7 linked regions of the Homo sapiens genome follow. The protein of the gene in region 1 purifies or fractionates together with the protein of each later gene. This does not show direct contact. Each region holds a gene or a part of one and is shown on either strand. Other genes may lie near its edges. The genes, in order: RXFP1, ST7, SLC12A4, ABHD6, PIGQ, NOTCH3 and ATP8B2.

Region 1 (3,500 bases):
TGTAGTTCCAGCTACTCGGGAAGCTGAGGTGGGAGGATCGCTTGAGCCTGGGAGGCAGAGATTGCAGTGAGCCAAGATGGTGCACTGCACTCCAGCCTAGGCAACAGAGCAAGACCCTGTGTCAGAAAAAGAAAAAAAAAGCTCAGAGTAAGTCAACACCAAGTGGATGTCTTCACTATTAATATCTCCTCTCCAGTCCATGCTCCTATCCTATTCCCCAGACAATAGAGTCATCTCTAAAGATGCAGCCCTTTTCATCACATGCCATGCAAATCATGAATCTGGCCCTTGGGGTCACCCCTCTAAGGTGAGAGAGGCTTCATGTGCCACAGGTTGAAAAATGAGACAGCATTGCTACAGCAGAAGAAACTTTGCCAACTTCTCAGGAGTAATTTATAGACTATCAGAATCTCTCAGACACTTCTAGTGTCCAGAGAAATCCTCTCTTTTTTCTGGGTGCCCCAGATAATGTAGGCACCAAATACCTGTGTGCTTCACCGCTCCTATAACCTCTTCTTTCCCACCAAAAAAGAATGCCATCTGTTCTGTCTTTCTGCCTATGCAGGTGCCAGAGAGGGCGGACAGTGGAGGCCCTGGTCGTAGGGAGTCGAATATCCCTAACCTTACTGTTTTCTTCCCTCTCCCCACCCCAGCACACACAGTTTCCTGAGATAGAGTAACATGTTTCAATCCTCACCTTTGTGGGGATTGAAAGGACACTCACAGAGCAACACAGAGCATCCTCACTGTTATGTTAAACGACCCCAAGATATTCATTCCTGATATGGTAAAACATAAATCCCACACTGGTCATAAACTCTGCTATCATGAAAGTCTGATCTCTTTTTTTGCTTGCTTGTTTTTTGTTGTTGTTGTTGTTGTTGTTGTTGTTTATGAGACAGGGTTTTGCTCTGTGGCCCAGGCTGGAGTGCAGTGGTGTGATCACAGCTCACTGCAGCCTCAACCTCCTGGACTCAAGTGATCCTCCCACCTCAGCCTCCTGAGTAGCTGGTACCACAGGTGCATGCCACCACGCCCGGCTAATTTTTGTATTTTTTGTAGAGATGGGAGTTTCACCATGTTGCCCAGACTGGTCTCGAACTCCTGGGCTCAAGCCATCCGCCCACCTCAGCCTCTCAAATCTCTGGGATTACAGGTGTGAGCCACTGCTCCCAAACTCCTTCAAGTTTTGATCCTGCTACATGCTTGGGTTTGTCCTCCTTTGCTTCTTTCCCAGATTGTCTATTTAGTGCCAAATGGACTCCCTGCAGCTTTCCCTTTCCTGGCTAAGCAACCTAGATACTGGCTTCCAGTTCTAATTAAGCAGTTCCTCTTTCTCCCTTAGCGCTTAATTTCTCCTTCCTATCTTAATGATTCTCTGTATTCCTTAGTCTCACCACACCTTCTGACAAAATACCCACAAAGAGAAACTCTCCTGTCTTGGTCCCAAATCTTGCAACCCTAATTCTGATTTCTACTCATTTCATTTCCCTAATAAATACTTCCTCCTCATTAATTAGGACTTTCATAGAGAACAGCTGCCTGTTAAACATACTACTTGCAGATTACACCCCTCCCTCATTTTGCAGTTACCTGGGTTCATGGACATTTTTGGCCGATTTTTTTCAGTGTTGTGTAAATTAGTTCCAACACCTGATCCTCATAATACAAGCAAGTTATGACCCTGCAGTTTCCTGTAGTTGCAGCCATTTAAACAGATAAATTTTACTTTACAGAGTTTAAATTAAAACATTATAAAATAGAACATGCAAATAGATAGGAAATGACAAATTTTGAACAAAATTTATATGCGTGTGTGCCTGGACCTAGTGAAAGAAATCAGATAAGCTGCCCTAGGAAGCTTTTTTGGAAGCTTTTATCCAGGCACATATTGCAAGTGTAAGTTAATGAAAATAACTCTTCTCAGGTGCATCACGCATTGGCTTCTGAGATACAGCACAATCCACTCTACCATTACCTTCACTCATAAAACCTCAGATTCTTTTTATCCTCTTCTCTCACCCTCTGTTGCTCACCCTAGCCTTTTGATATTTTAATGGTTTTTTCCCAGAGCAGGCTAGAAATGTTTGATTCATTTTCAATGGTCCAGAAGATTTGCCGTTTTTACTTTCTCAGTTGTGGCTGATTTGCTGGAAATTGCAGAACTGCCTCATGGTTTATAAATGTTTCTACTTTCTCACACATTTCAAACTTAGACAGAGTGACATCATCAGTCATGCTTTCTGTTAGCTTCTTAACCTCCATTTAACCTCCCTTTTTTGTGTTAAGATCAAGAGAGGTGGCCAGTTTAGCAAAGTCAAATTTAGATTTTTATTTCTGCCCTTCTAATTGCAGTCGTTACCCCTGATCCTGTGAACTTGCAGCACAACAGTTTAAGTTCCCTGGAAAGGAAAGAGGGATTGTTTTTCTTTGTTGATATTTTCTCAACCACTGAGCATTCGTCTTCAGTGGTGATCCAAAATAATGTGGCAAGTCATTTGTCTATCAAATCCATTTTAATGGAAAAAATCTGTACAAAGCTTTTTGTAGCGCATCTGGCTCTTGGGCACCTTTTTTCAAAGTTTCTATGCTAGTAAACGTTAGCAGGTTCAATTTGAAAGCTCCACGCCCTCTTCTGTTCTTCAATCCCCTAGAGGCTTTGAGTCTTTTTTGAGACAGGGTCTTGCTCTCCTGGCCCAGGCTTGAGTGCAGTGATGCAATCTTGGCTCACTGCAAACTCTGCCCCCTGGCTCAAGCAATCCTCCCAACTAAGCCTCGCGAGTTGCTGGGACTCCAAGTGCATGCCACCATGCCTACCTATTTAAAAAAAAATTTATAGAGAGGAGAACACACTACATTGCCCAGGCTGGTCCTAAACGCCTGGGCTCAAGCCATCTGCCTACCTCAGCCTCCTGAAGTACTGGGATTGAGCCACTGCACCTGGTCTGCCTTTGACTCTTCACTGTTTCTCTCTCTTTGATCCAAGGCCCTTGGCCTCACTCTCTGCCCCTCTGTTTCCTCCAATCACTCAGCCCCTCACTCCTGATCCTCTCCTGACACACATATTCCCCTACTGCACAGGGTCATCTTGAACACAAAATTTACTTCTATTCTAATTTTTTCAGGAGAATCCACCCTTCGGTTTTTGTCCTTTTTTTCCTCAGAAAGCACAGGGTTGTGGAGGGCTTCAGGGAATGTTGACAAAGGTAATGCCAGCATTCTCTGACATGAAGTTTGAGGGTGGAAGGAAATGTTATAAACTACTACTACACACACACACTTTAAATCTTATGCCATCATTAACATTAAGCATACCAAATCCAGGTACGATATATAGTGTAAACATTTTCATGTTTACAGACCAGAAACCTCATATGTGTAAAAATTATATTTTATATTTCTATGACTAAAATTCAGAGCTCATGACTCCTACATAAAATAATACAACATTTAAATTTGCTAATTCAAAGTAGCTTGGTTTTAAAATGAGGCACTTTTTC
Region 2 (3,500 bases), on another chromosome or scaffold:
TGAATACAAGTCCAGATTTTGTATGACTTCCTGCAGTGGCTTCCATTGCATTGAAAATACAATCTAAGTGTATTACCTTCATTTACAAAGTTTGATGCTATGGCTCTTTCTTACCCCTCAAATCTGAACTTCCACCTCTCTTTTTCTAGATCACCACCCTCCAAATACGCTGGGATTCTTTTTTTTTTGTTTTGTTTTTTTGTTTTTAAGACAGAGTCTCGCTCTGTTGCCCAGGCTGGAGTGCAGGGACGGGATCTCAGCTGACTGCAACCTCTGCCTCCTGGGTTCAGGTGATTCTCATGCCTCACCCTCCCAAGTAGCTGGGATTACAGGTGCATGCCATCATGTCCGGCTAAGTTTTGTATTTTTAGTAGAGACAGAGTTCGCCATCTTGTCCAGACTGGTCTCAAACTTCAGGCCTCTAGTGATCTGTCCCCCTCGGCCTCCCAGAGTGCTGGAATTCTAGGCGTGAGCCACTGCAGACACATAAAATTGTGCTGAAGTATTTCTAATCACTTCGAGTTACAATTCTGTTAAGTTTCATTTTGCCTGCCAATATTATTCTGAAAAATTTCCCAACCAAATCTTTCTTGTACTACTGTGTCATTGCTCACAGACAATTTTTTTCCACATTGGTAGAACCCTGAACTCCATTCATACAGATAATATGAGGTACTTAACTTGTACATTTGTTTAAGTTCCTTATTGATGCTGGATATTAGATCTTTGTCAGATGCAAAGTTTCCAAAAATTGTCTCCATTCTGTAGGTTTTCTGTTGACTCTGTTGATAGTTTCTGTTGCTGTGCAGAGGCTCTTTAGTTTAGATTTTATTTGTCAATTTTTGCTTTTATTGTAGTTGCTTTTGGTGTCTTCATCATGAAATCTTTGCCCATTCCTGTGTCCTGAATGGTATTATGTAGGTTGTGTTGCAGGGTTTTTATAGTTTTTGGTTTTACATTTAAGTCTCTAATCCATCTTCAGTTGTATATGGTGTAAAGAAGGGGTCCACTTTCAATCTTTTGCATATGGCTAGCCAGATATCCCAGCACCATTTATTGAATAGGCAATCCTTCTCCCATTGCTTGTTTTGTCAGATTTGTCGAAGATCAGATAGTTGTAGGTGTGCAGCATTATTTCTGGGTTCTCTGTTCTGTTCCATTGGTCTATGTGTCTGTTTTTGTACCAGTATCATGCTGTTTTGGTTACTGTAGCCCTGTAGTGTAGTTTGAAGATGAGTAGCGAGTAGCATGATGCCTCCAGCTTTGTTCTTTTGCTTAGGATTGCTTTGGCTATTTGGGCTATTTTTTGGTTCCATATGAATTTTGAAACAGTTTTTTCTAATTCTGTGATGAATGTCAGTGGTAGTTTAATAGGAATATCATTGAAATTGTAAATTGCTTTGGGCAGTATGGGCATTTTAATGATATTGATTCTTCCTATCCGTGAGCATGGGATGTTTTTCCATTTGCTTGTGTCATCTCTGATCTCTTTGAGCAGTGTTTTATAGTTCTTCGTGTAGTGATCCTTCACCTCCATGGTTAGCTGTATTCCTACGTGTGTGTGTGTGTGTGTGTGTGTGTGTGTGTGTGTGTGGTGGGGGGCAATTGTGAATAGGTCTGCATTCCTGGTTTGGCTCTTGGCCTGACTGTTGTTGGTGTATAGGAATGTTAGTGATTTTTGCACATTGATTTTATATCCTGAGACTTTGCTAAAGTTGTTTATTAGCTTAAGGAGCTTTTGGGCTGAGACTATGGGGTTTTCTTTCTTTTTTTTTTTTAATTTTACTTTAAGTTCTGGGATACAAGTGCAGAATGTGTAGGTTTGTTATGTAGGTATACGTGTGCCATGGTGGTTTGCTGCACCTATCAACCCGTCATCTAGGTTTTAACCCCTGCATGCATTAGCTATTTCTTCTAATGTTCTCCCTCCCCTCACCCCCCCACCCCCTGACTGGCCCTGGTGTGTGGTGTTCCTCTCCCTGTGTCCATGTGTTCTCATTGTTCAACTCTGACTTATGAGTGAGAACATGCAGTGTTTGGTTTTCTGTTCCTGTGTTAGTTTGCTGAGGATGGTGGCTTACAGCTTCATCCATGTCCCTGCAAAGGAGATGATCTCATTCCTTTTTTATGACTGTATAGTATTCCATGGTGTACGTGTACCACATTTTCTTTATCCAGTCTATCATTGATGGGCATTTGGGTTGGTTCCATGTCTTTGCTATTGTACATGGTGCTGCAATAAACATATGTGTACATGTGTCTTTATAGTAGGATGACTTATATTCTTTGGGTATATACCTAGTAATGGGATTGCTTGGTTAAATGGTATTATTTCTAGTTCTAGATCCTTGAGGAATCGCCACACTGTCTTCCACAAAGGTTGAACTAATTTACATCCCACCAACAGTGTAAAGGCGTTCCTGTTTCTTCACAGCCTCACCAGCATCTATGGTTTCCTGACGTTTTAATAATCACCATTCTGACTGGTGTGAGATGGTATCTCATTGTGGTTTTGATTTGCATTTCTGTAATGATCAGTGATGGTGAGCTTTTTTCTATGTTTGTTGGCCACATAAATGTCTTCTTTTGAGAAGTGTCTGTTCATATCCTTTGCCTACTTTTTAATGGGGCTGTTTGATTTTTTCTTGTAAATTTGTTTAAGTTCCTTGTAGATTCTGGATATTAGACTTGGGCAGATGGGTAGATTGCAAACATTTTCTCCCATTCTGTAGGTTGCCTGTTCACTCTGATGATAGTTTCTTTTGCTGTGCAGAAGCTCTTTAATTATGTGACTCTGGGGTTTTCTAGATATAGGATCATGTCGTCTGCAAACAGGGGTAGTTGACTTTCTCTCTTCCTATTTGGATGTCTGGGCATTCTATGAATATTTGTGTGGTTGAGATAGTTACTGACTTTGGCCTTACAGCTTGATGATAGACTTGGTCCCTTGACTAGAATGCAATCTTCATATGAGACTGTAAAATGAATAAGTGCTTTGTAGGCTGTAAAATACTATTTAAATCTGAGGCATTATAGTAGGTCTTTTCCTCAGAAGGCTATATTCTATATTCTATAGGCTTGGCTCTCACAGTGAAATGACACATTAAACTATATAATAGAATCTTTTTTATCCTCGATATTCTTTCTAAAACTGCACCAAGCAAGATAATGGGTTATTGGATTGTTTGAAACCACACTACTGTCTGTTTGTTGTAAATGTGGAATAATATCTCTCAACATCATTATTGTATTTGAGATGTTGTTGTAAAGATATCTGTAAAGGGCTTTGGATTTTCCAGAAGAGAGAACTTGTAATGAAACTCATTTTTCTTGTTACAGTGGGGCAAGACAGTTGCTGATGTGTTACCATTACCCATCATTTAAAACTAGCAGGCATTCCTATACTACCTACTGTGCTAAAATAAGGAACTGACAGGCCCAGTTAGTTAGCTGTAGCAGTATTTTATGTTGCTGTGGCTGTGGTATCACTGTTTAATTGC
Region 3 (3,500 bases), on another chromosome or scaffold:
TGCCTTTGTTAGTCTGACTCCTCCAGACCAGAGGAGGGACTGTCTCATCCAGCCTTTTGGCCCTAAGGCCCCGCACAGTGCCTGCCACCAGGTGAGTGTCCACGGCTCCCTGCCCTGAATCTGTGCTTCTATCAAAGTCTAACACCCTTAAAAGACTCAGAGAGTCATGACCAGGCCCCAGGGTGACAAGCACAGGGGGACAAGAGTCATCTCATGTTGCTGGTTGTATCTGCTGCTGAGACAATGTCTCTGGTGAAAATCTGGGAACAGGGATCAAGAAATTCTTTCAAAGAGTCAATCTTGGCTGGGCGTGGTGGCTCATGCCTGTAAGCCCAGCATTTTGGGAGGCTGGGGTGAGTGGATTGCTTGAGCTCAGGAGTTCCAGACCAGTCTGGGCAACATGGCGAGACCCCGTCTCTACTAAAAAAAGGAAATGATAAAAATATACATTTTTAAAAAAAGGCCGGGTGCAGTGGCCCACATCTGTAATCCCAGCATTTTGGGAGGCTGAGATGGGTGGACTGCCTGAGCTCAGGAGTTCGTGACCAGCCTGGGCAACACGATGAAACCCCGTCTCTACTAAAATACAAAATTAGCTAGGCGTGGCGGTGTGCACCTGTAGTCCCAGCTACTCAGGAGGCTGAGGCAGGAGAATCGTTTGAACCTGGGAGGCAGAGGGTGCAGTGAGCCGAGATCATGCCACTTCACTCTAGCCTGGCGACAGAGTGAGACTCCGTCTCAAAAAAAAAAAAATGTCAGCTGGGCACAGTGGCTCACGCCTGTAATCCCAGCACTTTGGGAGGCTGAGGCAGGCAGATGACTTGAGGTCAGGAGTTTGAGACCAGCCTAGCCAACATGGTGAAACCCCATCTCTACTAAAAATACAAAAATTAGCTGAGCATGGTGGTGCATGTCTGTAATCCCAGCTACTCGGGCGGCTGAGGCAGGAGAATCGCTTGAACCTGGGAGGTGGAGATTGCAGTGAGCTGAGATCGTGCCACTGCACTCCAGCCTGGGCGACACACTCCGTCTCAAAATAAATAAATAAATAAATAAACGAAAAGTCAATCTTTTTCATGCCGTAATCCACCTCCAGGACCCTCTCCTAAGGGAACTGCTGGGGCATGAACAAAGATTCATGTTCAAGGATGTTCATGACAACAATGTATACAATGGTGAAAAAGTGGAACCCACAGGCAGGAGAATAATCACATTAATTAGGTTATGGTGTACCATGGAGAATCCTGTTTTCAAAAAACCATTTTCGGCAGGGTGCAGTGGCTCACACCCGTAATCCCAGCACTTTGAGAGGCAGAGGTGGGTGGATCAGTTAAGGTCAAGAGTTCGAAACCATCCTGGCCAACATAGTGAAACCTCGTCTCTACTAAAAATACAAAAATGTGGTGGTCGCCTGTAATCCCAGCTACTCAGGAGGCTGAGGCATGAGAATCACTTAGAATTGCTTAAACCTGGGAAATGGAGGTTGCAGTGAGCTGAGATCATGCCACTGCACTCCAGCCTGGGTGACAGAGAGAGACTCTGTCTCAAAAAAAACCCAAAAAACCAAAATCAAAAAACTGTTTTCAACACTTGGGAAACATACACACACACATACACACGTAAACATATACACATAAATGCATATGTATATATACACACATATACTTTTGGGAAATACACACAAACACACACACACATATATATATATATATATACAATTTATGTAAATAGAGTGTGCGTGTGCAATACTTCATAAGACCCTAAGACTTATATATACCAAAAGGCGAACAGTAGTGATTTCAGGATGGTGGGATTATGGGTGCTTTTAATTTTCCATTCTATACCTTTCTGCACTTTTTTATTATTTATTTATTTATTTTGGAGATGGAGTCTTGCTCTGTCACCCAAGCTGGAGTGCAGTGGCATGATCTTGGCTCACTACTGCAACCTCTGCCTCCTGGGTTCAAGCTATTCTCTGCCTCAGCCTCCCAAGTAGCTGGAATTACAAGTGCCCACCACCATGCCTGGCTAATTTTTTTTTTTTTTTTTTGCGACGGAGTCTCGCTCTGTCGCCCAGGCTGGAGTGCAGTGGTGCAATCTCGGCTCACCGCAAGCTCTGCCTGCCAGGTTCACGCCATTCTCCTGCCTCAGCCTCCCGAGTAGCTGGGACTACAGGCGCCCGCCACCACGCCCGGCTAATTTTTTGTATTTCTAGTAGAGATGGGGTTTCACCGTGTTGGCCAGGATGGTCTCGATCTCCTGCCCTTGTGATCCACCCACCTCGGCCTCCCAAAGTGCTGGGATTACAGGCATGAGCCACCGCGCCTGGCCTTTTTTTGCACTTTCAAACCCTCTTACAGTAAACATACATTGCCCTTTTTTTTTCTTTTTTGGTATTGCTTTTATATTAACAAAAACCACAATGGCACTCTCCAACTCTGTCAAGCAGGAAAGCTCCTACGTGGGCACTGTCCTGGCATCAGGGATTGGGAGCCCACTACAGAACTGCTTGGGGCAGGGGTGTGCTATGGGGGTTCCCAGGTAGGTCAAGGCAGATACTGGGTCCTTTTCTCTTCCACCAGGCCTTGGGTGGCGCTCACTGACCTGGAACCACACCGTTGGTGGCGATGGCACTCATGGAGATGGCCGTCAGCAGGGTCTGTGGGAAGGAGGGCCTGGGTGAGCGGCTCAGCTGGGTGGGCTCTGTGGGGGCAGCCGTGGCCCATGCCCAGCCCAACCCTCCCACGCCAGGACACTCACACAACAGCAGCAGATAAGCACGATGAGGAGGGCCTGTAGCACACCTGCTGTGCCCACCATCCAGGTCAGCCGCAGGAAGAGGATAACCCCAAAGATATTCTGCAGGCAGGGCAGGTACACCCCCATGAGGGTGCCCATGCTGGGTGCCTATGCGAACACAAAGGGAGGGGGCGAGTAGAGCATCAGAGGGATGCACCATGGAGAGTCAGCCCTAGTCACTCAGCAGGCCCCCTCCCCCAGTGGGGCCCCAGGGAACACAGAGAGTAGGGGTGACAGCTAGGATGTCTCTATTGACTTTCATATAGGAAGACAGTTGAGTCTGGGAAGGTGTAAAACCTGATTCTTTTTAAAAACCCACATTGAACTTTGGAACCTTAACTCTCTCTCAAGGTACTGCCTCCTTCCCTTCCTCTCTTCTGTTAAACTTCTAGAAAGAGAGGTTTGTCTCAGATCTCCACCTTCTCACCCAGCAGGCCCTAAGTCACCCAAGCCAAAGTCCCAGAAGTCATCCCTGGCCCTCCCTCTCAACCCCCAACTCTAGTCCCGGTAGACACTAACTCCTACCCAGTCTGTCTCCCTGCTGCCCTGAGATCAGCCTGCCTTGTCCCAGCCTTAGTCCCTTGAACCTGGGGCACCTGGGTGGTACCCTCCTGAGCCTGTCAACCTCTCCACACTCCAGCCCACTCTGCTGCTATAGTAGGTCTCTGAAAGCAAGTCTAATCTCATCACCCATGCTGAAA
Region 4 (3,500 bases), on another chromosome or scaffold:
GCGATCTCGGCTCACCGCAACCTCCGCCTCCCGGGTTCAAGCAATTCTCCTGCCTCAGCCTCCAGAGTAGCTGGGATTACAGGCATGCACAAGCACGCCTGGCTAATTTTGTATTTTTAGTAGAGACGGGGTTTCTCCATGTTGGTCAGGCTGGTCTCGAACTCCCGACCTCAGGTGATCTGCCCGCCTCTACCTCCCAAAGTGCTGGGATTGCAGATGTGAGCCACCGCGCCCGGCCAAACCTGGATAATTTTGAAATTTTGTTGTTGTTGTTGGTTGTCACAACTTGTAGGTAACATCAAGTGGGTAGAGGCCAGGGATGCTGCTAAACGTCCTACGATGCACAGGACGGTGCCACAACAAAGAATTATATGGCCTCCAGTGTCACTTGTGCCACAGTTGAGAAACTGAAACTGGATATGATTTTCACAACATTAAAGTCCTTTCTGACCTTGCATGTAGTTGCCTCTTCCAAGAAGATCAAAGTATTCTCCTAAACCGGACCCTCAGAAACCCTCTGGATCCTATTTGACGCTTCCCAATCCTAGAGGCCACTTGGGGTGTTGCTGCCTGTGGCTGGATGGGTTTGGGGTCTGTCATGAGCTTCTGTGCGGCTCTCTGGTGCTGTACCAAGGAAACTGCTGATTCAGGGGAGCAGGACAGCACTCAGGAGGTGTGGGCAGAGGTTCTTACACTGCTGCAGGTTGGGATCCTCTTCTTTTTAAGTAATATATTAACAGCAGCCTTTGCTCTTAGGCATTTTTCCAGAAGCTGTGGCTGTTTGGCTGTTGGCATTGGGTGTTTGCCTTGTGATATACCCAGAAAAGGATTCATACGTTACATATGATGAAGTCTGGGGATGGGACTGGATTCTGAGAGTATAAAGATGGCAATGCAGACCCTGCCCAGAGACTACTCAGGCATCTCAATAGGCCTGAGCAGTGGCCATGCAGGGTGGTGGAGGTATGGCAGGGCTGCCTAACTCTGCCTGTGAAGTCAGGCAAGATCCCAGCAGTGCAGAGTGAATGCTTAGTATCTGCCTGTCACTGCTTTGAACAGTTTCCTTGCATCATCCCATTTCATCCCCACACTGAGGTAGAATTCTAAGAGGTTAGGTCACTTGCTACAGTCACATGGCAAGCATGTGACCAGAGCAGAGTCACAGTGGTCAATGGCAGAGCAGAGATTTGAACCCAGGTTGTTGAGCTGCAAAACTGAACTGTCAGGAGCATTTACAGAGAGCGGCAGTGCTTTAATAGCTAAGACTTTTAGGATGGGCTGGAGCTCGCCAGGCGAGAGGGAGAATAGGCGTGCCGGGGAGAGAGGAGCAGGTGTGTCAAAGTCCCGGAGGTGTGGGAGAGCACGGCATGTCTGGGGGTTGCAGATCATTATTGGAAGGGATGGAGGGCAGGCAATAGGCAGGTGATAGAAGAAGATGACCCTTGAGAGATGGGCAGCACCAAATCCTAAGTGGCCTTCAACATCATGCTGAGAGCCACTGCCAACCACCAGTGAATTAGCAGAGAGGAAGAGAAAGCTGTGTGACATTGAGCAGCTTGCTTAATTTCTCTAGGACCCAGCTGCCCATCCAAACTAAAACCTCTAAAACTATACTGCTCTGACGAATGTTTCTTTCATTTGTGGCCATATGAGCAGAGTGAAGGAATGCCTGCATTGACACTGGTGGGGCAGCCCTGTTGATTCATGACTTCTCCCCCTAAGGCTGTGTGATGGGTGCAGGGAGTGGTTTCTTCTCAGTCAGCAGTTGGTTTTGTTTCAGCTTTCCAGCTTATCATTTGGCATTGACCAAGTGTCTGCCAAGGGCAAGGCACAGTGTATGCTAAGTACTGTGACAGAGGCAAAGATGTGGTCAGACTTGTTTTTGAGGAGCTTGCAGCCTAGTGGAGGGTCCAGCCAGTGTTCTTTTTATTGTTATTATTATTATTATACTTTAAGTTCTAGGGTACATGTGCACAACGTGCAGGTTTGTTACATATGTATACATGTGCCATGTTGGTTTGCTGCACCCGTTAACTCGTCATTTACGTTAGGTATTTCTCCTAATGCTATCCCTCCCCCATCCCCCTGCCCCACGACAGGCCCCGGTGTGTAATGTTCCCCACCCTGTGTCCAAGTGTTTTCATTGTTCAATTCCCACCTATGAGTGAGACTGTGCGGTGTTTGGTTTTCTGTCCTTGGAATAGTTTGCTCAGAATGATGGTTTCCAGCTTCATCCATGTCCCTACAAAGGACATGAACTCATCCTTTTTTATGGCTGCATAGTATTCCATGGTGTATATGTGCCACATTTTCTTAATCCAGTCTATCATTGATGGACGTTTGGGTTGGTTCCAAGTCTTTGCTATTGTGAATAGTGCTGCAATAAACATATGTGTTCATGTGTCTTTATAGTAGCATTATTTATAATCCTTTGGGTGTATGCCCAGTAATGAGATTGCTGGGTCAAATAGTATTTCTAGTTCTCAATCCTTGAGGAATCACTGCACTGTCTTCCACAATGGTTGAACTAGTTTACAGTCCCGCCCAGCCAGTGTTCTTATCACGAGATACAAATCTCAAGTGTCTTGAGAGAGAAGTGTTCATACCAAATACTGTGGGGCATGGAGGATGAAATAGAGATTACTGGGGGATTGAGGAAAGTCTAAGTGAAGGAGATAACTTCTAGCTCCACCAGAAAGATTTTTTAAAGGAGAACTGGGGGTAGACAGAGGACGTCTTATAGGTAGAGAGTGGAGAAAATAGAGAAAAAAACAGAAAGCCAGTGCAGGTATAGTCATGAGAAAGTCAGATTATTAAGTGTATCTAGTATCTGATTCTCCGCAGTTTCCAGATTGTGGATGGGAAGCAGAAGTTTTCTTTTTTTTTTGAGACAGAGTCTCACTCTGTTGCCCAGGCTGGAGCGCAGTGGCACGAACTTGGCTCACTGCAGCCTCTGCCTCCTGAGTTCAAGGCATTCTTGTGCCTCAGCCTCCTTTGTAGCTGGGACGACAGGTGTGTGCCACCACGCCTGCCTAATTTTTTTGTGTTTTTAGTTAGAGACAGGGTTTCACCATGTTGTCCAGGCTGGTCTCAAACCTCAAGTGATCCACCTGCCTTGGCCTCCCAAAGTGCTGAGATTACAGGTGTGAGCCACTGTGCCTGGCTGGGAAGCAGAAGTTTTCATAACAGGAAAATATTCATTAATGGACTTGCCATGTGCAAAGTTAAGTCCTACTTCATCATCTATCCCTCTGTTTTCAACCCTGGTGGTCAGCCAGGCTCCAGGAGCATCCATATTTTGGCTCTGCGTCTCTGCCTGGTCGTCAGATGTTTTGCAAATATGACATAAACAATGGAAAGTAAAATTGCAACTCTTAAGAGAGGCAATATCTCTTGAAATCAAAGCCAGTGATGTTAAGGAACTGCTTGGATGATGTGTCAAAGCAATAATAGGATCTGGCAATGTGAGATCTGCCAACAATTGATAAAGAGAAGGGATG
Region 5 (3,500 bases), on another chromosome or scaffold:
GGGGCTTTCTGTGTCTGAGGAAGGCGAGCGGCCCAGCCAGCCGGCCAGTAGTGCCCCCACCGCTAGGGAGTCCTCCTGCCCTGTGGGGCCCCGCCAGGGAAGGCATCAGTGGAGAAGGAGCCCCAGCTGGCTGCATGGCTCCGCAGGGGCCTGTGAGAAAGGGGGAGGAGAGGCCCAGGGCCTGGGAACCGCGGTAGCTCAGGTGGCTTCCTACTCAACAGCCACCTTGGAAGGCTGGTGTCCCTCAGCCTGAGAGTGCAGGATGCAGTTTCTCCACACCTCCGGGACCTGTAAGCCTCTCTCTCCCCGTTTCTAGGCACCCATGTCGTTGGAGAAATATATCCTGGAGAGAAAATGCTCCCTGAGGGAGCCCTGCCCTGGGGTGGCTGTGGGGATGTCAGGGAGGGCCAGGCACTGCCGGGTGCCACCGTGGGCGGGGGTCAGAGTGGAGGCCGAAGCCCTGTGTGCCCTGAGCAACGAGGCAGGTCCTTCCTGCCCCCAGGGAGGGGCTTGTGGGAGGCAGGGACCTTCTGGGGGGCTGCCCGCCGTGCGCACGAGGTAGTTTCCACAGCCCAGCAGCACATCATTTTACATTTTCATCTTTATTCTTGCTTAATACGTGAATCATGGTTTGTCAAGGTTTCAATTGGCGTGACCTTGCTAATGAGATTGTACAGTTCTCCTCGTGCTACACCTTTAAGCACACCTCTCTAATCAGGTTTCTTAAAACTAAGAAGCCTGGAGTTCGGTTCGGCCCCACAGCCGCGTCAGGTGGTGCCGAGGAGGCCGTGCCCTGGGCCGGCCTGGAAATGGGAGGGCAGGCCTGGTGGCTGCATGTGCGTCCTGCCTCGTGCGGGTGGGGCTGAGCTGGGCCTGGGGTGGACTTGGGGCCAGCACTCTGGCTGCCCCTTGGAGAAGCATGGCCCACGCGAGGCGGCAGCCAAGGAGCCCTACGGCGTCCACCACCGAACTTGAAGCTGAGGTGCCCCGACCTGGGGCCCTGTGGCTGCACCTGTCAGGCCGTCTGTGCAACATCCCGCAGCCCACGGTGGGGGGGCAGCAGCAGCTCTGAGCCGAGCCTCTCCTCTTCTCTTCCAGCCTCCCGGCATGGTGCTCAAGGCCTTCTTCCCCACGTGCTGCGTCTCGACGGACAGCGGGCTGCTGGTGGGACGGTGGGTGCCGGAGCAGAGCAGCGCCGTGGTCCTGGCGGTCCTGCACTTTCCCTTCATCCCCATCCAGGTCAAGCAGCTCCTGGCCCAGGTGCGGCAGGCCAGCCAGGTGGGCGTGGCCGTGCTGGGCACCTGGTGCCACTGCCGGCAGGAGCCCGAGGAGAGCCTGGGCCGCTTCCTGGAGAGCCTGGGTGCTGTCTTCCCCCATGAGCCCTGGCTGCGGCTGTGCCGGGAGAGAGGCGGCACGTTCTGGAGCTGCGAGGCCACCCACCGGCAAGCGCCCACTGCCCCCGGTGCCCCTGGTGAGGACCAGGTCATGCTCATCTTCTATGACCAGCGCCAGGTGTTGCTGTCACAGCTACACCTGCCCACCGTCCTGCCCGACCGCCAGGCTGGAGCCACCACTGCCAGCACGGGGGGCCTGGCTGCCGTCTTCGACACGGTAGCACGCAGTGAGGTGCTCTTCCGCAGTGACCGCTTTGATGAGGGCCCCGTGCGGCTGAGCCACTGGCAGTCGGAGGGCGTGGAGGCCAGCATCCTCGCGGAGCTGGCCAGGCGAGCCTCGGGACCCATTTGCCTGCTGTTGGCCAGCCTGCTGTCGCTGGTCTCAGCTGTCAGTGCCTGCCGGTAGGTGTCCCGGGACAGGCAGGTGGCAAAGAGTGGGGTCCCATGAGTGCTGGCCCATCCCTTTGTCTGCAGTGGGCACAGAGGCCCAGATGCGCTCTTCCTGGGCCCGGGCCCCCTCCCACTCCTGCAGCCCGGGCTTTGGCCCCATCCTGCTCTCCCAACCCTCGCCTCTCAGAGGGTGTCCCTCACCCCTGGGGTAGAGCCAGGTCTCTGGGCAGCCTCAGGGATTGCCAGGGGCCCTCCCAGAAGGTGTAGAGGGTGAACCTCAGTGGCTTAGGTCCCTGAAAGAGAAATCAGAAGGTGAGCACAGACATGACTACTGCTGCCTGGGGGTGCTCCTGAGGGCACACAGGCCCGCTGGCCTCCCTGTAGCCCTGCCTGTGCCCCCAGCAGGCCTCTGGACACTGCAGCGCTCATGGGCTGTGGGGGTGTCATCCACTTGCTGGCCCCGTGTGCCTGGGGGAGTGGTCTACAGGCCCTGCTTCTCTCCACAATCACAGGTGCTGCTGGCCAAGGGTCAGTTGAAGCCCAAGGGCCCTGAGGGGCACGGGGGTAGCCCCGAGCTGTGGCTGAGAACAGAGGGCCCCCTTCCACAGGGGACCTCATCTGCCTGGCGGAGGTGCCCCATGGGGAGCAGCTAGGGGTCACCTGCAGTTGCCCCCTGCCTTAGACCCGGGGGTGCATACTCTGGAAGCCTGGGGTGAGAAGCTAGGCCAGCCCAGGAGACCCCGGGCAGCTTTCTGGGCCCTGTCGGCGGGGCGAGGCCCTGGGCCCGTGGGAGTTGCTGCTGGCTGGCAGGCGCTTCTTGGCACCGGCTCTGGGAGCATGTGGTGACCAGGTGGCCCGGGGTCAGCACCTGCGAGGAGGCCAGGCTCCGTGTTAGTCACGTGCACTGTGAGGTGGGCGCGTTGAGCGCTGCCTACCACCACCTGGGCCACCGAGGGCCCCTCCCACCTGCCCCCTGTCCTGCTGAGCTCAGGAGTGTGGCCTGGGTGTTTGTGGTCCCCTGCACAGTGGGGGACGGTGGGAGGAGGATCTGGAGAGGGACACATCACTCCTCTCCACTCCCACGCAGAGTGTTCAAGCTCTGGCCCCTGTCCTTCCTCGGGAGCAAACTCTCCACGTGCGAACAGCTCCGGCACCGGCTGGAGCACCTCACGCTAATCTTCAGTACACGGAAGGCGGAGAACCCTGCCCAGCTGATGAGGTGTGGGCCTGCCCTGGTCTCTGCAGGGCTGGGTGCGTGCCCTCTGGCCCCTTCTCCATCCCCCTCTGCACCACGCTGACCCCTCCGGCCAGGCAGGCCTCCTCCTGCGGCCCCAGGCTGTGCTGGCCACCCTCATGCCGGCCGGGCCGGACCTCCCTTCCAGGAAGGCCAACACGGTGGCCTCTGTGCTGCTGGACGTGGCCCTGGGCCTCATGCTGCTGTCCTGGCTCCACGGGAGAAGCCGCATCGGGCATCTGGCCGACGCCCTCGTTCCTGTGGCTGACGTGAGTGGACTGGGGTGGAGCCCGGTGTCCCGGGTGGGCGTGGGGACCCCTCCTGGGCAGCAGAGCCTTCCCGGGCCAGAGCCACCGCCCCACAAAGCCAGTTCTACCTTCTCCATGCTCTGGAGACACGGCCCTCCCCTGAACCAGAAGCAGGAACTCCAGGGGCGCTGGGGCCTGGGCAGGGCAGGCCTCGCAGGTACACCCCCCTTTCCT
Region 6 (3,500 bases), on another chromosome or scaffold:
TAATCCCAGCACTTTGGGAGGCCAAGATGGGAGGATCGCTTGGGCCCAGGACTTTGAGACCAGCCTGGACAACATAGTGAGTTTTTGTCATCTCTACAAAAACTTGGTAGGCTGGGTGTGGTGGCTCACGCCTGTAACCCCAACACATTGGGAGGCCCAGGCGGGTAGATTGCTTGAGCTCAGCAGTTTGAGACCAGCCTGGGCAACATGGCAAAACCCTATCTCTACCAAAAATACAAAAAATTAGCTGGGCATGGTAGCGCATGCCTGTAGTCCCAGCTACTCTGGATGCTAAGGTTGAAGGATGGCTTGAGCCCAGAAGGTGGAGGTTGCAGTGAGCTGAGACTGAGCCACTGCGTTCCAGCCTGGGAGACAGTGTAAGACCGTGTATAACAAAAAAGAGAGAGAAAAAAAGATGATGCTGGAGGCAGCTTTAGTGGGGAAGTGTAAGCCTGGGAGAGGCTTGGGAGGAGGCTGACATTGCACTGATGCATGGCTCAGGGCAGAAGCCATTGGAATGGGGAACTCCTGGGAGTTACCTTTGGAAGTGGCAAAGATCAGAGAACATGTTTAGGAGGGGAACGTGGATATAGAAAGAGGGCATACATGGCAGAGGGTATTACAGAAGCAAAGGCTGGAGTGTAGGACCCTTTTGTAATCAGAAGAGTCAAAAGGTTTTAAAACAATATGTGGATGTTTGCAATTTATTTTATTTTATTTTTGAGACAGAGTCTCACTTTGTCACCCAGGCTGGAGTACAGTGGCATGATCTCAGCTCACTGCAGCCTCGACTTCCTGGGCTCAAGTGATCCTCCCACCTCAGTCCCCCAAGTAGCTGGGATTACAGGCGTGCGCCACCATGCCCGGCTAAGCTTTGTATTTTTTGTAGAGACGGGTCTCACTATATTGCCCAGGCTGGTCTTGAACTCTTGAACTCAAGCGATGCACTCACCTTGGCCTCCCAAAGTGCTAGGATTATAGACGTGAGCCACTGTGCCCGGTCTGCAATTTATTTTTAAATGGTTTAGAAAAGAAGATTGGTAGATTAAGCTAACAATAGTTGAATCTAGGTGGTGGGTATATGAATGGTCAACTTTTCTGTATGTTTGATAGTTCTCATAATAAATGGATTAAAAAAGCAGCTACTAAATACTGTTTAGGTTTAATAAAAACAACAGGCCGGGCGCGGTGGCTCACGCCTGTAATCCCAGCACTTTGGGAGGCTGAGGCAGGCAGATCACCTGAGGTCAGGAGTTTGAGACCAACCTGGCTAACTTGGTGAAACCCCGTTTCTACTAAAAATACAAAAAATTAGCCGGGCGTGGTGGCACATGCCTGTAATCCCAGCTACTCGGGAGGCTGAGCAGGAGAATCGCTTGAACCTGGGAGGTGGAGGTTACAGTGAGCCAAGATCGCGCTATTGTACTCCAGCTTGGGCAACAAGAGCGAAACTTCGTCTCAAAAAACAAAACAAAACAACAACAACGACAAAACAATACTCAAGGGGTGTGGGCCTTTTGGGCAGAGCAGGAAGATCTGCCTATGACTTCTGCTTACCACTTCCCAGGCCTCCTGTGTCACCTGGATGACGCCTGTGTCAGCAACCCCTGCCACGAGGATGCTATCTGTGACACAAATCCGGTGAACGGCCGGGCCATTTGCACCTGTCCTCCCGGCTTCACGGGTGGGGCATGTGACCAGGATGTGGACGAGTGCTCTATCGGTGAGGGGAGCTCCATCGTCTGTGAATGGGCTGGGAAAGAGGGGAGAGGAGGGGGTCCCGGCCAGCCACGCCCACACCGATCGCACTCCATCCGGCAGGCGCCAACCCCTGCGAGCACTTGGGCAGGTGCGTGAACACGCAGGGCTCCTTCCTGTGCCAGTGCGGTCGTGGCTACACTGGACCTCGCTGTGAGACCGATGTCAACGAGTGTCTGTCGGGGCCCTGCCGAAACCAGGCCACGTGCCTCGACCGCATAGGCCAGTTCACCTGTATCTGTATGGCAGGTGGGTGGTGGGCGTGGCCTGGGCGGGTCCTGAGGCAGGGGGCGGGGACAGAGAAGCCCGCGGATGGGGAGCTGAGCAGAATGGGGTGTAAGTGGGTTTGGAGTGGGACCCTTAGAGACTGAAGCCTGGAAGGAGGTGGGGTCAGGACCAGAAGGGAATACTGTGTGATTCTGGGGGCTTGGTCAAATGGAGTCAGTAGAACCTCAGGTGGGCTGGGAGTATTCTTGGCCTTAGGACCCACTCGGGAAGGGGTTGGGGATAGAGAGGCAGAGTCGGGGCTGCTGTGAGGTCAAGGTGAAGCCTGCAGACAAGCTTGCAGTAAGCCTGGGCAAAGGCTATGGGGGGCCCTGGGGCTGGGGGCTGGGGACTGGGGAAAGGGCTTAGTCTGAGGACTGGGGAGAGGAGGAGGGGTTTGAAGGCAAGGCCTCTGCGGACACCCATGAGCCTTGGGCCAGTTGGGACCACGGCTGGGTGACAGTCCAGCCTGTGGCTGAAAATTAAGGTTGGGCTGGGAGTGTAGAGGTGGGGACGAAGGCTCGGGGGATTTGTCGATGAGTAGGAAGGGAAGTACCTCCTTCCTTGCACCCCGTTCACACCATAGGGTAGCCCCCGCTTTCCTAAGCCCTATTCCCTGCCCCAGGCTTCACAGGAACCTATTGCGAGGTGGACATTGACGAGTGTCAGAGTAGCCCCTGTGTCAACGGTGGGGTCTGCAAGGACCGAGTCAATGGCTTCAGCTGCACCTGCCCCTCGGGTGAGGACCTCAGGAGAGGGAGCCCGAAAAGACATGTCTGGGAAGGGGCAAAAACTCCAGGGTGGGAACCTGTAAAACCACGTTAGCGGATAACTTACAATAGAAACCATATGTTATGAAACATTGAAGTTAATTTAAATCCAAGTAAATGGGTTTTTCCACCCAAACAAGGCGGGGCTGGAGAGGGGTGTACTGCTCTCACCCTTTCTGGGCCTCTGCTCATCCCACTCCCCACCCCAGGCTTCAGCGGCTCCACGTGTCAGCTGGACGTGGACGAATGCGCCAGCACGCCCTGCAGGAATGGCGCCAAATGCGTGGACCAGCCCGATGGCTACGAGTGCCGCTGTGCCGAGGGTGAGGCGGGCCAATGACAGTCCGACAAGAATCAGGAGGCGGGGCTTGTGGGCGACAGGGCCAATAACAGACTTGGGGAGAGCTTGGGGGCGGGGTTGTAGCAAGGCAGGACCCAGTGACAGAGTTGGGGGGTGGAGCCAATAATGCATATAGACTGACATAAGGCTACGTGTGGAGCCAAAGTGTTGGGCTGGGCACAGGGTGCCTGTAACTGAATGGGGAGGGCCCAATACCTTCCCCTGGCACCTGCCATGTGCTCCCATCTCCAGTGGAGGGTGGGGCAGAAACAGGGCTGGAGGTGGGGCCACAGCTGGGGGCGGGATTTAACTGTGGGAGAGTCTTGGCTAGGGACAAATTCTGGAGCTTGTAGTGGGGTGGAGTGGAA
Region 7 (3,500 bases), on another chromosome or scaffold:
CCTTGCACTTGAGATAAGGGAACCTGTGACATTTTTAAGGAAATGTTTTATGGAGGTGCTGAAAACTTGTCCTGTCTCCCATCTTTTGTTCATACAGATTCCCCAAATAGCCCTCAACTCTCTCCCAGCCCCCAATCTTACTGCTGGTGATAATAAATAGAAGATACAGCATTTCTGTGCTGAGAGAATATAGTTTAGGCTTTTCCAGGGTGTGAAGAGGAGAGTTGGGAGGTTCTGGGTTTAGTCCTGCCTCCTCACTGGCCATGTGACCTCAGGAAAATCCACGGTCACTCAGGGCCTCACTTGATCTTAGTTTTCCCACGTGAAACAGGAACAGGAGTACTTGTCTCACCTTTTAATAGGATGTCTTGATATAAGATATTGGCTTAGAAGATACATTTTAAACTTAAGTGACTGTACAGTTACTGGGTGGTAGCCTGCTCATTGTGACTGTTGCCACTCCCTTCTGCATTACTATTTAAATGCCTTTGTGCTTACAACCTAATTTTGTTTTCCCACCTATGGGCTTTGCTATCTGTGTTTTGTATCTCAGTTCACTTGAAGCCCTTGGGAGCAGCTAAAGCAGTTTTCTTTCTGAGTCTCATCAGGTCACAGTGTGTATGTTTCGGGAGGCTAAGAGGGGGTTGAAGAGCTGTGTGAGGAAAAGGCCCTTTGGAATGTGAAGACATTCCCATTTGCCTGGTAATGGGATCCTGATAGGTGCCTTAGTCAGGTGGGAAGCAGGGCTCTCGATAGGGCCCCATTGCTCGGCTGCACTGGACCTAAACATGGCCCTTTCTGGAAATGCTAACAGTGCATATGATTAGCAAAGAAGAGGATACGAACAGACCTGGAGATGTTAAAGGCACTATAGGGGCCAGGCATGGTGGCTGTCGCCTGTAATCCCAGCACTTTGGGCGGTGGAGGCGGGAGGATCTCTTGAGTTCAGGAATTCAAGACCAGTGTGGGCAACACAGCGAGATCCCATCTCTACAAAAAATGAAAATTAGCCAGGTGTGGTGGTGTGCACCTGTAGTCCCAGCTACTAGGGAGGCTGAGGTGGGAGGATTGCTTGAGCCCAGGAGTTTGAGGCTACAGTGAGCTATGATTACACTACTGCACTCCAGCTTGGGTGACAGAGACCCTAGCTCAAAAAACAAACAAGCAAACAACAACCACCACAATGCGCTGTGCCATTGTGAAGTGGTGGTGTTCTGCAGATGCCCAGGGCCCTCTCCCTCTGGAGTCAGCACCTCAGCCCTGCCCGGTGTTCAGAATCAGGAATGTAGTGCCCCAAGCCCAGGGTGGAAGGAGCGCACCCAGCCTGTGGTGGGACAGTGACGAGTGGGCTTCAAGCCTTCTCCATTTCCCCTCCCCGGTGCCACCCCTCTTTGAGGTGGCGTCTGTGTTGCTGTGGCATGCACAGCACCCTCATTATTTCTCTCTCTCTTTTCTCTCCCCTCCCTCTGGCACTTTCTCTTGTTTTTCTCTGCATGGTTTCTGTATTATTAGTCCTGAGGTAAGAACTGGCCGAGTGCCTTGTCTACAGCCCCTTTTCCTCCTTTGCTGTCTGTCCTGCCCACCCAGGCCCTTTGCACCTTCTTGTCTGGAGAGCATCAGGAGGGTCGGGTCGGGGCGTTCCTCTGCTGGCTGTGTGCAGCCGGCTCCACCTTCAGGCTCTCCTTGCCCTTTCCCACCCAGGTTTCTGTGCCCAGGTGTCTTCTCCGTTCTTGTCTCTCCCCAGGCGGAGGGCCTGCAGCGAAGGCCCATGTGGGTGGGGCACCTCCTCTTCTTCCCGACCCAAGCCTCACCTCTTGTCCCCTGTGCAGTGTGGAGGTCATCCGTCTGGGCCACAGCTACTTCATCAACTGGGATAAGAAGATGTTCTGCATGAAGAAGCGGACGCCTGCAGAAGCCCGCACCACCACCCTAAACGAGGAGCTGGGCCAGGTGGAGTACATCTTCTCCGACAAGACGGGCACCCTCACCCAGAACATCATGGTTTTCAACAAGTGCTCCATCAATGGCCACAGCTATGGTATGGTGGCACCACTGGGGACTGGGGGCTTGCACCTCGCCTGGAAGGACAGTGGAACTGGGGCCCCACAGTTTCCTTAACATTGGTTTTTTCTTCCTTCCTAGTTGGGTCTGAGGGGCCTAGAAGAAAGGGTCCATCCTGGCCAGGCACGGTGGCTCATGCCTATAGTCATAGCACTTTGGGAGGCTGAGGTGGGAGGATTGCTCGAGCCCAGGAATGCGAGACCAGCCTGGGCAACATAGTGAGACCACATCCCTACAAAAAATTTAAAAATTAGCCAGGTATGGTGGCATGCACCTGTGGTCTCAGCTGGCCAGTGACTCAGGAGGCTGAGATGGGAGGATCACTTGAGCCTGGGAGGTCAAGGCTGCAGTGAGCCATGATCTTCCACTGCACTCCAGCCTGGGCGACAGAATGAGGCCCTGTCTCTCGAGAAAAATCCACACACAAAGAAGAGGTCCATTCTGTGTCCCATGTCAAGAAGCAGATCCTGGCTGGGCGCAGTGGATCACCTGAGGTCAAGTGTTCGAGACCAGCTTGGCCAACATGGTGAAACTCCGTCTCTACTAAAAATACAAAAAATAGCTGGGCGTGGTGGCAGGTGCCTGTTTTCCCAGCTACTCGGGGGGCTGAGGCAGGAGAATTGCTTGAATCCAGGAGGTGGAGGTTACAGTGAGCCGAGTTTGCGCCATTGTACTCCAGCCTGGGCGACAAGAGTGAAAGTCTATCAAAAAAAAAAAAAAAATTAGATTCTGAGAGTCCTCCCCTTGTCCTCTCCTGATGCCCTGACCCTGGTCTCAGCTCCAGGAATTAGGGGAGCTCCTTGGCTGTTTGAAGTGAGACACTGGCCTCTGGGCATCCTGGCCAGGCGGAACCCTGCTAGACTCTCCCCTGTTGCTGCTCAGGGTCCTTGTGAGTCTGTGGAATGTGGCTGTGGTTGGACTTCCCAGTGTGGCCCGTGGCTGTGCTGCTGGGATGGCCTGGGGCAGCATGTGGGGCTGACTTTTATGCAGAGTGTGGACCCCTCTTGTGACTGCTTTCTGTACTGACTGATGCCTTTCGGTCAGTGTCTGAGCCTTGTCTGCTGCTCAGGTCTAATGGGTGCAAGGAGGCCTGGGAGGTGTGGAATTGGAGCTGCCCTGAGGGGGGTGCCGCCTAGGGTAGAGACAGGGATGGTGAGCAGTGGGTGCCGGGGCTCTTTCATGGCCAGGCCTTGGGGTTCTGGAATCTAGGGTGCCTGATGCCTCCTATCCCGCGAGTCAGCAATGTGACTGAGTGACTCACACTGTGACAGCTGCTCAGCGATTAGGGTTGAGGGGCTCAGTGCCTACGGGGATTCTGCATTGGAGATGTTTTTCCATGCTCTGGAGCTCTCTGGCTCTGACATTGCTTCTTTTTCTGCCCTGGCTGTATGTAGGTGATGTGTTTGACGTCCTGGGACACAAAGCTGAATTGGGAGAGG

Evidence for each region.
Region 2: the proteins of RXFP1 (region 1) and ST7 purify together in Homo sapiens (affinity purification with mass spectrometry; one large-scale study listed by BioGRID and IntAct). This does not show direct contact.
Region 3: the proteins of RXFP1 (region 1) and SLC12A4 purify together in Homo sapiens (affinity purification with mass spectrometry; one large-scale study listed by BioGRID and IntAct). This does not show direct contact.
Region 4: the proteins of RXFP1 (region 1) and ABHD6 purify together in Homo sapiens (affinity purification with mass spectrometry; one large-scale study listed by BioGRID and IntAct). This does not show direct contact.
Region 5: the proteins of RXFP1 (region 1) and PIGQ purify together in Homo sapiens (affinity purification with mass spectrometry; one large-scale study listed by BioGRID and IntAct). This does not show direct contact.
Region 6: the proteins of RXFP1 (region 1) and NOTCH3 purify together in Homo sapiens (affinity purification with mass spectrometry; one large-scale study listed by BioGRID and IntAct). This does not show direct contact.
Region 7: the proteins of RXFP1 (region 1) and ATP8B2 purify together in Homo sapiens (affinity purification with mass spectrometry; one large-scale study listed by BioGRID and IntAct). This does not show direct contact.

The regions. Positions count from the first base shown.
Region 1 is NC_000004.12:158,528,382-158,531,881, forward strand, and holds part of RXFP1 (relaxin receptor 1 isoform 1 precursor), read left to right. Parts: intron 1-3,500. UniProt on the Homo sapiens protein: Receptor for relaxins. The activity of this receptor is mediated by G proteins leading to stimulation of adenylate cyclase and an increase of cAMP.
Region 2 is NC_000007.14:116,960,001-116,963,500, forward strand, and holds part of ST7 (suppressor of tumorigenicity 7 protein), read left to right. Parts: intron 1-3,500. UniProt on the Homo sapiens protein: May act as a tumor suppressor.
Region 3 is NC_000016.10:67,955,138-67,958,637, forward strand, and holds part of SLC12A4 (solute carrier family 12 member 4), read right to left. Parts: intron 2,908-3,500; coding exon 2,761-2,907; intron 2,660-2,760; coding exon 2,605-2,659; intron 1-2,604. UniProt on the Homo sapiens protein: Mediates electroneutral potassium-chloride cotransport when activated by cell swelling. May contribute to cell volume homeostasis in single cells. May be involved in the regulation of basolateral Cl(-) exit in NaCl absorbing epithelia.
Region 4 is NC_000003.12:58,240,792-58,244,291, forward strand, and holds part of ABHD6 (monoacylglycerol lipase ABHD6), read left to right. Parts: intron 1-3,500. UniProt on the Homo sapiens protein: Lipase that preferentially hydrolysis medium-chain saturated monoacylglycerols including 2-arachidonoylglycerol. Through 2-arachidonoylglycerol degradation may regulate endocannabinoid signaling pathways.
Region 5 is NC_000016.10:572,968-576,467, forward strand, and holds part of PIGQ (phosphatidylinositol N-acetylglucosaminyltransferase subunit Q), read left to right. Parts: intron 1-1,098; 5' UTR 1,099-1,107; coding exon 1,108-1,796; intron 1,797-2,871; coding exon 2,872-3,003; intron 3,004-3,166; coding exon 3,167-3,287; intron 3,288-3,500. UniProt on the Homo sapiens protein: Part of the glycosylphosphatidylinositol-N-acetylglucosaminyltransferase (GPI-GnT) complex that catalyzes the transfer of N-acetylglucosamine from UDP-N-acetylglucosamine to phosphatidylinositol and participates in the first step of GPI biosynthesis.
Region 6 is NC_000019.10:15,187,496-15,190,995, reverse strand, and holds part of NOTCH3 (neurogenic locus notch homolog protein 3 precursor), read left to right. Parts: intron 1-1,567; coding exon 1,568-1,723; intron 1,724-1,821; coding exon 1,822-2,007; intron 2,008-2,647; coding exon 2,648-2,761; intron 2,762-3,001; coding exon 3,002-3,115; intron 3,116-3,500. UniProt on the Homo sapiens protein: Functions as a receptor for membrane-bound ligands Jagged1, Jagged2 and Delta1 to regulate cell-fate determination.
Region 7 is NC_000001.11:154,339,025-154,342,524, forward strand, and holds part of ATP8B2 (phospholipid-transporting ATPase ID), read left to right. Parts: intron 1-1,829; coding exon 1,830-2,038; intron 2,039-3,455; coding exon 3,456-3,499; intron 3,500-3,500. UniProt on the Homo sapiens protein: Catalytic component of P4-ATPase flippase complex, which catalyzes the hydrolysis of ATP coupled to the transport of phosphatidylcholine (PC) from the outer to the inner leaflet of the plasma membrane.